3 linked regions of the Homo sapiens genome follow. The protein of the gene in region 1 interacts with the protein of each later gene in a pairwise test. Each region holds a gene or a part of one and is shown on either strand. Other genes may lie near its edges. The genes, in order: ZBTB34, PIAS4 and RNF4.

Region 1 (3,647 bases):
CTGTGTTTTCCCTGGATGCGTTGCCCTTCATGCTTTGAGCTCCTTCGGGGAGGGAGGGCAGGGGAAAGGATAAACACAACGAAGTGTTCCATCCAGAAACTTTAGAAAAACTGCCAAGAGACCAAGAGATTTCCAGATGGTTGGGAAAACCAAAGATTACAACAAAGCAAATCACAAATATGCATTGATTAATGTGCTTTGTTTGGGTGCACTTCTTTACCATCTTAATCGGGAGCATCAGACACTGTGTGAATTTCCATCCGGGAATCTAGGCCCATCTCTGAGGCCGATGCGTCATTTTCTAGTTTCTGTTCCACGTACACATCTGTTCTCTCGGGGGACTCAATGCGACTCCTGACTTCAGCAACGCCTGGGTGGTTTTTCCGCAAGTGCTGGTTGAGGGTACCTTGGAATGGAAAGCACTTCCCGCAGATCTCACAGCGGAATGGTTTATCATCTGTATGGCCCCGGATGTGGTACTCCAGTTGGTCCTTCCGTGTGTACTTCTTCCCACAGAACTTGCACACAAAGGGGGTGATTCCCATATGGAGTCGCATGTGCCTATCAAGGCTTCCTTTCTGGTTGAAGGACTTTCCACAGTAAATACAGATCAACCTCTCATTGTACGGGTACCAATGCCCTCTCGCACTCCTCTCCCGGGGACTGCTCTCATACCCGGGGTTGTTCATCATGGCTTCACTGTCAGAGCCCTGCACCAGGCCCTGCAGGTCACTGTGCAGGTGGACAGACAAAGCCCGCTTCTGGCGGGCACGCCCTCCTCGGAAACAGCTCAGCATGGACCTGGATGGGCTGGAATTACTCAAACTTCCAAAAGCTTCTGATACATTGGTTGGCTGTGAGGCTGCTTGGGAATAGGAGTATGCGTGCTGGAGCACAGAACCATAGGAGCCCACATTCACTGCCACAACTTGTTCCCCATCAACCATCTCGGTGTGGTACCCATCGTCACCCAGGGAGGAGCTGTCGGAACAGCTGGGCCGGTCGGACTTCTCCATCTTCACTTTCACCTCGGTGATCTGGCTCTCCCTCACCAATAGGTCTCCTTGCTCATGGTCTCCCTCTATCTGAATCTCATATTCAGAAACGCTCCCACTGCTCCCGCGGTCTGAGTGCCCCTCCTCCTGTAAGCGGCTGCGCAAAGCTTTGCTGGGGGTCGTCTCCATCCGGAGGTCACTGCTTGCGGTGGGCTGCCGTCCCTGAGAGCAATATGGAGGAGAGATCTCCACTGGGTTGGCAAAGAAGCTGCTGTCTTTCACTCCGTTTCGACTCTCGGGATTCTCTTCAGCACCGACGGTAACAGAGTCAACATCTCCAACGCTGATTTTGGAATGGATGCTCTCTAGGATCTGCGTGCACTTGTCAATGACACACTGCATCTGAAGAAAGCTGGCTGCAGTCAGAAAACTGACAACATCCTTCAGCTGCAAGGACATTCTTCCAGTGTAACAAAAAGAAAGCAACTGCTCAAACACATTGGGATTTTTAATCACTGATATTGACAAGCCACTCATGGTACTTAACGCTGAATGGTCCCGGAAATATGGGGAGCTGGCAGCAAGGACTGCTTTGTGGGCTCGGAATGGCTGACCCTGAATGTGTACAATGATGTCACATAGTTTCCCCTGCAGGCGGAGTTCGTTTAGCTGGCTCAGAACGGTGCTGCTGTACTCGGGCACATCAAACTGAATAAAACTGCTGCTGTCCATTTCTACTGACATGAAGCGTACTCTGCGGAGAGAGAGAGTTTGCATCATTCACCAATGACTCCTCACTAAGTACAAGTGGCATAAACACAAGCTTACAACAACAATACCATTGTGGCTATCATACCTCCTAAAATCTACCTGAAGCATTCTTCCCCTTGTTTTAGTCTTTCATGTTTTGGTTAATTCACCTAAAGCCAAATAAACTAATGATCAATTAGCCTAATGTCATAATTGCCTAATATTCATCTTGATCAAAAGTAAAATATTTTACACATAGTAGGACTATTTTGGCTCTGACTGAGAAATTGGTCTCCTTTTAGGAAAAATATTTCCCCATTTCAAGTACTTTTGAGGGTTTGAAGTACTTTGTGAAAAATAACTAAATTCAGGCCAGGCGCAGTGGCTTACACCTATAATCCCAGCACTTTGGGAGGCTGAGGGAGGCGGATCACTTGAGGTCAGGAGTTTGAAACCAACCTGGCCAACATGGTAAAACCCCATCTGTACTAAAAATACAAAAATTAGCCTGGTGTGGTGTTGTGCACCTGTAATTCCAGCTACTTGGGAGGCTGCAGCAGGGGAATCGCTTGACCTCAGAAGGCAGAGGTTGCAGTGAGCCGAGAGCACACCACTGCATCCCAGCCTAGCGGACAGAGTGAGACTCCTTCTAAAAAAAAAAAAAAAACAAAACAAAAACAAAACTAAATTCATCTAAAAATGTTCTACCTTACTTGTGTATTTCTGATTGGTATTTTTCAACTCTGTAGCACACTGGATACAATAAATGGAGCTAAACCCTTTTCAGTATTATTGTCTTGATTTGTGTGTTTGCCCTTCAGCTCTGTACACCTTTATATCTCTTTTGGGTTGGGTTGCTTTGGCTGAGACTTACCATGCTCAGTCTCCTTCAGTGAAGAGTTATTATTACTTTTTTTTTTTTTTGAGACAGAATCTTGCTCTGTTGCACAGGCTGGAGTGCAGTGGCGTGATCTCGGCTCACTGAAACCTCCGCCTCCTAGGTTCAAGCAATTCTCATGCCTCAGCCTCCTGAATAGCTGGGATTACAGGCATGCGCTACCATGCCCAGTTAATTTTTGTATTTTTAGAAGAGACGGGATTTCACCATGTTGTCCAGGCTGGTCTCGAACTCCTGACCTCAGGTGATCTGCTCCCCTCGGCCTCCCAAAGTCCTGGGATTACAGGCAAGAGTCACCACACCGGCCTATTATTACTATTTTTTATTAGAGATGAGGTCTCATTATGTTGCCCAGGCTGGTCTTGAACTCCTGAGCTCGTGATCCTCCCACCTCAGCTTCCCAAAGTGCTAGGATTGCAAGTGTGAGCTGCCACACCCGACCAGTGAAGAGTTATTTTAGACAATATTTTATTTTATTTATTTTTATTTTATTTTTACAGATGGAGTCTCGCTCTGTCGTCCGGAGTGCAATGGCATGATCTTGGCTCACTGCAACATCTGCCTCCTGGGTTCAAGTGATCCTCCTGCCTCAGCCTCCTGAGTAGCTGGACTACAGGCGTGCACCACCACACCCAGCTAGTTTTTGTATTTTCAGTAGAGATGGGGTTTCACCATGTTAGCCAGGCTGGTCTCGAACTCCTGACCTCAAGTGATCTGCCTGCCACGGCCTCCCAAAGTGCTGAGATAACAGGCGTGAGCCACCGCGCTCTGCCAAGACAGTGTTTTTAAACAGTAGTTATTTTAGACAACAAGAGTGAAAGGGTGATGGACACATCAAAAGGAATCACCTTCTACTAGCGCTCACAGCTGCGGCACACCTACAACAGGTTTCCTTCCTGTGGCCTAAAATCTGCAGCGCCAGACTGCTCAGAACTACTTAAGTATATATAGCCCCGGCTCCATCCTCTGACAGAAACATAACAAAACCAGATCTAACAATTATA
Region 2 (3,647 bases), on another chromosome or scaffold:
AGGAGAGGCCCCCTGCCCCACGGGTCCATGCAGGGCCCAGGCTGGCCTGTTACTGTCAAGGCTACAGCTGCTCCCAGGCACCCGCAGTGGCATCGTTCTCATCACACAGGAGAGCCCTCGTCCCACTCTGGGCCACCCTTTCTGAGGCTCTCACCCAGGCCAGCCCCTCCGCCCCGCCGAGCTCTCTCTGAGGCGATGCTCGGAGCCCACCGTGCCAGGGCCGCCCCAGGCGTAGCACAGCCCTGCCTGCCCACTTCCCTGCTTGCAAAACTGCTTTTCACCCTCCAAAGCCCCACCCCACAGCTTCTCTTCCTCCTCCCCAAGACACACACAGCAACGGGAACGTTTATGTCTGGCTCTGCTCCTCTATCCGCTCCCCTGGCCAAGAACAAGACTCTGAAGGCAGGGTCTGGGACGGGGCTCTTTTGGGGACCCTGGGGTCACCCAGCTCAGAGCCAGGGACAGAGAGGTGATAGGGCTCATGGAACAAAGTATGAACCAAGGACCCCTCCTCCAGGAAGCCTCCCTGGCTACACCGAGTCCCATGGGCTGCTGAGGCCAAGGCCTGCATGGGACACAGCTGCCTGCCCCAGCCCTGGTGGCCCTGGAGCTGTGAGAGCTGCCGCCACCCCAAGCCCAAGCCCCACTCCGGGCCTGTGGGGGAAGGCGGGCACCCGGCTGCACAGCTGTCAGGCTGGGAACAGAGCAGCCATTCAGGCAGCCCACGTGCCCGGCCCAAAGGACTCCTCTCTCTACCCGAAGCTGGGATGCAAGGGGGTGGCCACCCAGCCCTCCACAGAGGGGACCCAGACTCAGGCTGGGTTCAAGTCTCAGCCTGGCCCCGTGAGCCGGGGTAGCTCCAGCTGCTGGTTGCCTCCTCTGAGCCTGTTTCCTCGTCTGTAAACTGAGGACGCTCACAGGTCTGTCTCCTGGGATGGGGACAAGTGCATGAACCGGAGGTCCACCTGGGGATGAAATCTACAACCCCAGAGGCAGGCCAGCCCTGCCTTCACCTGCACAGTCCGCTGAGGCCATGCCTGAGGGCTGGGGACCCGGCCCACCCCCACAGGCAGGGCCTGCTCCCGCCTGTGAGGGCGCCAGCTTGTGCCGCTGTGGCCTCGCGCCCTGCCGGCGGCTCTGGGGACGAGGTGGGCGCGGTCGGCGCCGGGCAGGAGCCGCATCAGGCACCACAGACAACGGGGCTCAGTTTCTGGAAACTTAAGCCCTGGGCAGAGCCTTCCACCAGGGAGAAAGGTCTTGTCCTCCTGTCCCCTGTGGCCTGGGGAATGCCTGGCCACAGCTGTGCCACCTAGGAAGGGAAGGGCATGGCGTAGCCAGAGTGCTCCAGGAGGCGCCACCTCCTTTGCCTTTCTGTGAGGAGGTCACCCCCAAGGCTGCGCGTCCTGGGGTGAACGCCGTGTGAAAGCACGACCTGGCTCAGTTTTTTGTGGCACAAACCACACTCCTGGAGCTCAGGGTCACACTTGCCTGAGGTCACGTGGGAGCGGGGTGGACCGGAGCCCACCTTCTGCAACCTAAGCTACGTGGCTGTCACCTGCATAGCAAAGGCTCTGAGAAGTTCCGCGAGAAAGAAACCGGCTCTTTTCGCAGCCCGGGGTTTCCAAAGCTCCAGGACCATGTGCCCCCACTGCTGTGTCTTGCTGGGGCACCATGTGGTCTGCAGGAAGCGGGGTGCCACCGAGACCTCCACGGATGTCCGGCTCCGGCCGCCCTCCCCGGGGCCCCGGGCTCACCCGTCGATGATGAGCTGGTCGTAGGGGGCTGGCTTGTCGCACACGGGGCACATCCAGGTGGGCTTCTTCTCGTTCATCTGCAGGTAGAAGACGGCGTCGAAGCACTGCAGGTGGGCACAGGTCTCTGCCCGGCAGGGCACGGAGAGCCGCATCTTCACCAGCTGTGGGGGAGGGGCTGCGTGAGCAGGGCACCCCTCCTGTTGTGCCCGCCTGCCCGGTGCCCCTCACCCCCAGCTCCATCCTGTGGCTCGCTCCAATCACTCATGCCTCAGGAACACGGAGGGGACGAAGACCAGCCTCGCCCCCGCAGGCTCACGGCCCAGCCAAGCCGCCCCGGGCCCAGGGCCGCCAGGGGGGAAGGCCGGCCGCAGGAGAGGCCTCGAGGAGGGGACCGCGCCCCGACTCACCGGACAGATGAGGGACACCCGCACACCGGTGGTGGCGATCTCGCTGTCAGGATCAAGGCGCAGCTTCTCCTTGACTGTGGGGAGGGAACGGAAGACACCGTCAGGAGGGTGGGAACAGCAGGGCGCGGGGCTGTGATTCGAGTTCTCTCCGGCACTGACGTCCACCTCCCAGAACAGGCCCCTGACGATGAGTCCCAAGCTTCGCTGTGTGGCTCGGGGCCGTGAGGGATTGGAGAAAGCCGGGTGGCAACCACCATTAGATTTGACCACAACCTGGGCACAGCACAGACCCAGCCGAAGCCCCCACACGGAGGTGGCCTATGTGGCCTCCCCCACCCTGCGTGGACTATGACCCATGGGACTTTTCTGGCAAGTTTCATGCAACACAGCCACCGAAAGAGTCATTGCTGTGACTTCATTCTGTCACCGAAGCACCATCCCCAAGGCCACAGCGGGGAATGAGGCAGGGACTCTTTGGGAGACGGATCCTGGGGCTTCCTGGCTGTGAGCCAGCAAGCGGCTGCCGCCCAGCCCCAGCACCGCCCCAAGGCAGCCTGCAGACAGGAGTGTAGCTGCTTCTTTAAAGGAAAAGACGGTGCCCGCCAGCAAGCTGCACGGAACATGGGGAAACATATGTGAAACATGAAGTCTTGGAGGCAGGCGCCGCCCTCCCCTCGACGGGCAGCAGGCCCACAGCCAGAAGGAAACTCACGCAGGGACCCTGGCTGCCCTCCTGAGGCTTCTGGGATGTGGCTCCATCCCAGGGTAAACTCCATCCATGGGTAGCTCAGGAGAGACCCCAGCCCTGGGCCATGGGGGGCAGGCCACCCTGGCCCACAACCCACAGGGCCTCTCCATCCACCACCTGGCCCTCAGCTGCCTGGTGGACCAGTGTTGCTTCCTCCAGGAAGCCACCTGCCCAAGTGACTTGGGGTCCAGAGTGATGGTGCCAGCCTGCCCCCCCACTCCCCCCAGCTGTCCTGACGTTCCTCCGCCTGGAAATGCCCCTACCACCCCTTATTGGCCTGAAACACCACTTATCTCTGCCCGCTTGGGAGCCACTTCCTCCTTCCTGACCCCCACCCAGACCCCCAGCCGGGGTGTGGAGCAGTGGGCTCTTCCTTCTCCCGTGGGGACGTGGTGGCAGCCACGTGCTGGCTCCCAGCAGCTCCCCTGCTTGAGCCAAGGCTGCCCCAGCCGCTCACTCCTCAGCTGAGTTTCCATCCTTGGATCCCAGCTCTGGCTACCCGGTGCCCGGGTGGACCCTCAAGCCTGGCAAAGGGGCAGCTAGGAGGGGATGCAGGTGCCCATCTGATTTTAAAGCAAACTCTCCCTCCTTTGTGTATGGAGAGACGTGCGCAGCAGGAAGGGTTCAAGTGAGGCAAAGGTGAGGACTTCCTAGGTGCAGCAAGAAAGAAATCCAGTGACAGAGAGGCTGAGCCTGGGGCCGGCTGTGGGAAGCAGCAGGAGACCCCTTCGGAGAGGA
Region 3 (3,647 bases), on another chromosome or scaffold:
GAATTGCTTGAACCCAGGAGGCGGAGGTTGCAGTGAGCCAAGATCGCACCACTGCACTCCAGCCTTGGCGACAGAGCGAGACTCTGTCTCAAAAAAAAAAAAAAAAAAAAAGAATTTGCCCTAGATTAACCGATGAAGTTACTAAGCTAAGCCTGACTTTTGGTCCTTGGGCCAAGTGAGAGTGGTCAGCTTCACCTGCTGGGAGGAGCAGAGGTTTCAGGCTAGTCCATCCCAAAGAGAAAGGCCTGGGGCTGGGCATGCATGGTGCGTTCTCCCAGATGGGGCACAGAGGCATAGCCGTGTGGAAGTGGGATGCCGTGGAATAGAGGTATGCACATGCGCACACATACATAACCCCCCAGGTACATTTGTAAAAACCATACCTCCCCACTCAGAGCAGAATTCTGGAAGGGTGGTTACTGGCTTTCCCTCCTGAGGGAGGTGTTGGTCCTGGTGCTCTTTGCAGTGTATACTTCAGGATTGTTTTAGTTTGGGGTAAGCCTATAACATTAGCAGTCATACTAAAGTGTAGAGGGATACAACCTTACTTTCCTCTTAATCTTAATGCTTGTTGAAATACTTTCTTTTGAAGCTGGAGATGAAATTGTGGACCTCACTTGTGAATCTTTAGAGCCTGTGGTGGTTGATCTGACTCACAATGACTCTGTTGTGGTAAGTGTTGGAGTGTGAGAGTCGGCTGTTTCTTGGGTATGGGTCCCTGGCCAGTGCCAGCATCTGACAGCCTTGGTCACAGACTCCAAGTCAAGGTTACAGCTTATGCTAAAGAAGTTCATGCATCTTGTGGAATTGAGCTTTTAGAAAGAAAATAAACAGTAACAATAATAATAACAAAGAAGTTCATGCATTCAGTGACGAGAGCCCAAAATGAAAAATGTTTCTGGAAAATCATTTGTTATAGCCTTGTCGCCTATGGAGTAGGTCTGTGTAACCTGACCTTGCCACACCTGGGCACAAAAGTGGTTTGGGGAGAATCTCAAGACCCCCACATCTGTCTTCAGTCCCTGATTCCACAGTTTACACCAGCTGTGTGACCTTGGGCATGTGACTTAGCCTCATTCACTTTCCATGAAATGGGGACAGGTCACTCATGTCAGCAGGGCATGGTGTAAGACATCTTACAACAGATGCCGTGTTTGAGTGCCTGACACCTAGAATGGTGCCCAGTCACTGTGAGTGTATGCCCTCCCAACTGAAAGGAAAGGGAACGTTGGCTCAGCACTGCCCATGGGAAATCTCTCAAGTTCCAAAAGTGCCTGCTACTTAGCATGGCCTCAGGGGATGCAGGCTCCCTGCATTGCCACCTGATGCCTGCTGCGTCCTGATGCCAGGGAGGCTGGAGCCCAGGAGGCTGCCTGTGTCCCTGTCTCATGGCACCGGTTACAGACTGCAGGGGACGTGTGTATACGTGTCCTGCCTGCCAGGAGGGAGGCCTTGTCTGGTCAGAGGACACACGGAGAAGCTATTTCTGATAGACCTGTTTCATGGTGCATGCAGGTCTGGGAATCTGGTCAGCATCTTAAGGGCAAGTTTGCCTCTGGAAGATGCCACTTGAGTGTTTTCTGACAGTGTGCTCGGAACACAGGTCGGGGTGGGGGCACACTTGGCAGCATTGGCAGTGGGGTGGTAAGTGCTGCTGAGGAGGACTGTGGGGTGTGGGGGCTGCTAGTAGCTGAGTCTTCGCCTTGGCCCTGGGCTCACTGGTGTTGGGGTTATCCTGTTTGGCTGATGCCTGGGTATCTGAATAGGGACACCCCATAGGTGTTGCTTCTTAGTTGTGCTGAGAACTTCAGAATAGGGTTATACTGAGAAGTTTCAAGACTTCAATGCAAAGAAAAGGACAGGGATGGAAAACCATCTGAGATAAGCAGCAGTGGGTTTAGTTGTACGTGGTCCCTGCTTAGGTCTCATTAACGTGTTTTCTGAGGTACATACACACATATGACTTTGCTTATCATCCCTGTGTCCTGCATGGAGTTCTGGAAAGATAACTAATTTGGTATATTAGCTGGCAGCTACAGCACAGTCACTGATTTTTCCCCTCTTTCTTTTTCCCAGCTGACACCTTGGTTTCACCAGTTGCTCATTAAAGCTGGAAAGTGGTGTCTGCAGAAGTTTTTTTGTTTTTTGTTTTTTGTTTTTCTTGAATACTCAGTGTTCACCACAGTCTTCTTGGCCTTCTCTCTGCCAGACCCTGAGGAGAGAGCTAGGATTTTGACTGCAGGAAGACAATGATTGATTGGCTTTTGTTGGCTGACAAACCAACATCATTTCCCCTTTCACACTTGTGTTTTCTTTTGCTTTAGAAACAGGGTCTCAGGCTGGGCGCGGTGGCTCACGCCTGTAATCTCAGCACTTTGGGAGGCCGAGGTGGGCGGACCACAAGGTCAGGAGTTTGACATCAGCCTGGCCAACATGGTGAAACCCTGTCTCTACTAAAAATACAAAAATTATGCGGACGCCTGTAGTCCCAGCTATTCAGGAGGCTAAGGCAGGAGAATCGCTTGAACCCAGGAATCAGAGGTTGCAGTGAGCCGAGATCACGTCACTGCACTCCAGCCCGGGCAACAGAGTGAGACTCCATCTCAAAAAAAAAAAAAAATACAAAAATTAGCCAGGTGTGATGATGCATACCTGTAATCCCAGCTACTCGGGAGGCTAAGGCAGGAGAATTACTTGAACCCAGGAGGCGGAGGTTGCAGTGAGCCAAGATCGCGCCACTGCACTCAAGCCTGGGCGACAGAGCAAGACTCTGTCTCAAAAAAAAAAAAAAAGAAAAGAAAAGAAACAGGGTCTCACTCTGTTGCCCAGGCTAGAGAGCAGTGGCATGATCACACCTTACTGCAGCCTCCAACCCCTGAGCTTAAGTGATTCTCCCACATTATCCTCCTGAGTAGCTGAGACTACAGGTGCATGCCACCATACACTACTAAATTTGGGTCGGGTGGTGGTGGTGATTTTTTAATATTTTTGTAGAGACAGGGTCTCACTGTGATGCCCAGGCTGGTCTTGAACTCCTGGGCTCAAGCAGTCACCCACCTCAGCCTCCCAAAGCACTAGGATTACAGGTGTGAGCCACCACACTGGCCAGCTTTGTTTTGTTTTGATGACTAAGCTGCTCTTGCTAAAAGGGCTTCCTCTCTGAACTTCCCTACCTTTCTTCTGTTTCCCTGGGCTAGGGCTCCATGTTGGCAGTCCTACTCCCAATTAACCTGGGGCTGTCTGGTTAACCTTTATAAGATCTGCAGTCATTGGGAGACCCGGGGACCAGGAATATTGGTGTTGAGGGAGCTACCCTGGAAAGTGGATGGGTGGCCAGAGGGAGAGCTGATAGGTAAAAGGGAGACGCTCCTGGCTTGGGAAGCAGGAGTCCTAGGTTCTGGTCTCTCAGATCTACTGGTCAGTTTGATCAGTGGATTTATCTCACACTGTCCTCAGTGTTGTCAGCCACAAAATAACTGCTTTGGACTTGATAGCTCTTGCTAATCATTCTCTACTTATTTTTGATTTTAATAAGTCCAAGTGCCAGTTTATGAATTTACACTGAGACATATACTTGAGTTTGGAATTCTGCCTCTGAGCAGATCTGTTTGGGAGGCCTCTAATGCTAGTCACTGAGGATAAGGGGC

The links.
Region 2: the proteins of ZBTB34 (region 1) and PIAS4 interact in binary tests that used the Homo sapiens proteins (3 or more experiments, as listed by UniProt).
Region 3: the proteins of ZBTB34 (region 1) and RNF4 interact in binary tests that used the Homo sapiens proteins (3 or more experiments, as listed by UniProt).

The regions. Positions count from the first base shown.
Region 1 is NC_000009.12:126,877,492-126,881,138, reverse strand, and holds part of ZBTB34 (zinc finger and BTB domain-containing protein 34), read right to left. Parts: intron 1,750-3,647; coding exon of another isoform or gene 1,740-1,749; coding exon 225-1,739; 3' UTR 1-224. UniProt on the Homo sapiens protein: May be a transcriptional repressor.
Region 2 is NC_000019.10:4,031,688-4,035,334, reverse strand, and holds part of PIAS4 (E3 SUMO-protein ligase PIAS4), read right to left. Parts: intron 2,236-3,647; coding exon 2,162-2,235; intron 1,916-2,161; coding exon 1,755-1,915; intron 1-1,754.
Region 3 is NC_000004.12:2,500,067-2,503,713, forward strand, and holds part of RNF4 (E3 ubiquitin-protein ligase RNF4), read left to right. Parts: intron 1-592; coding exon 593-672; intron 673-3,647. UniProt on the Homo sapiens protein: E3 ubiquitin-protein ligase which binds polysumoylated chains covalently attached to proteins and mediates 'Lys-6'-, 'Lys-11'-, 'Lys-48'- and 'Lys-63'-linked polyubiquitination of those substrates and their subsequent targeting to the proteasome for degradation.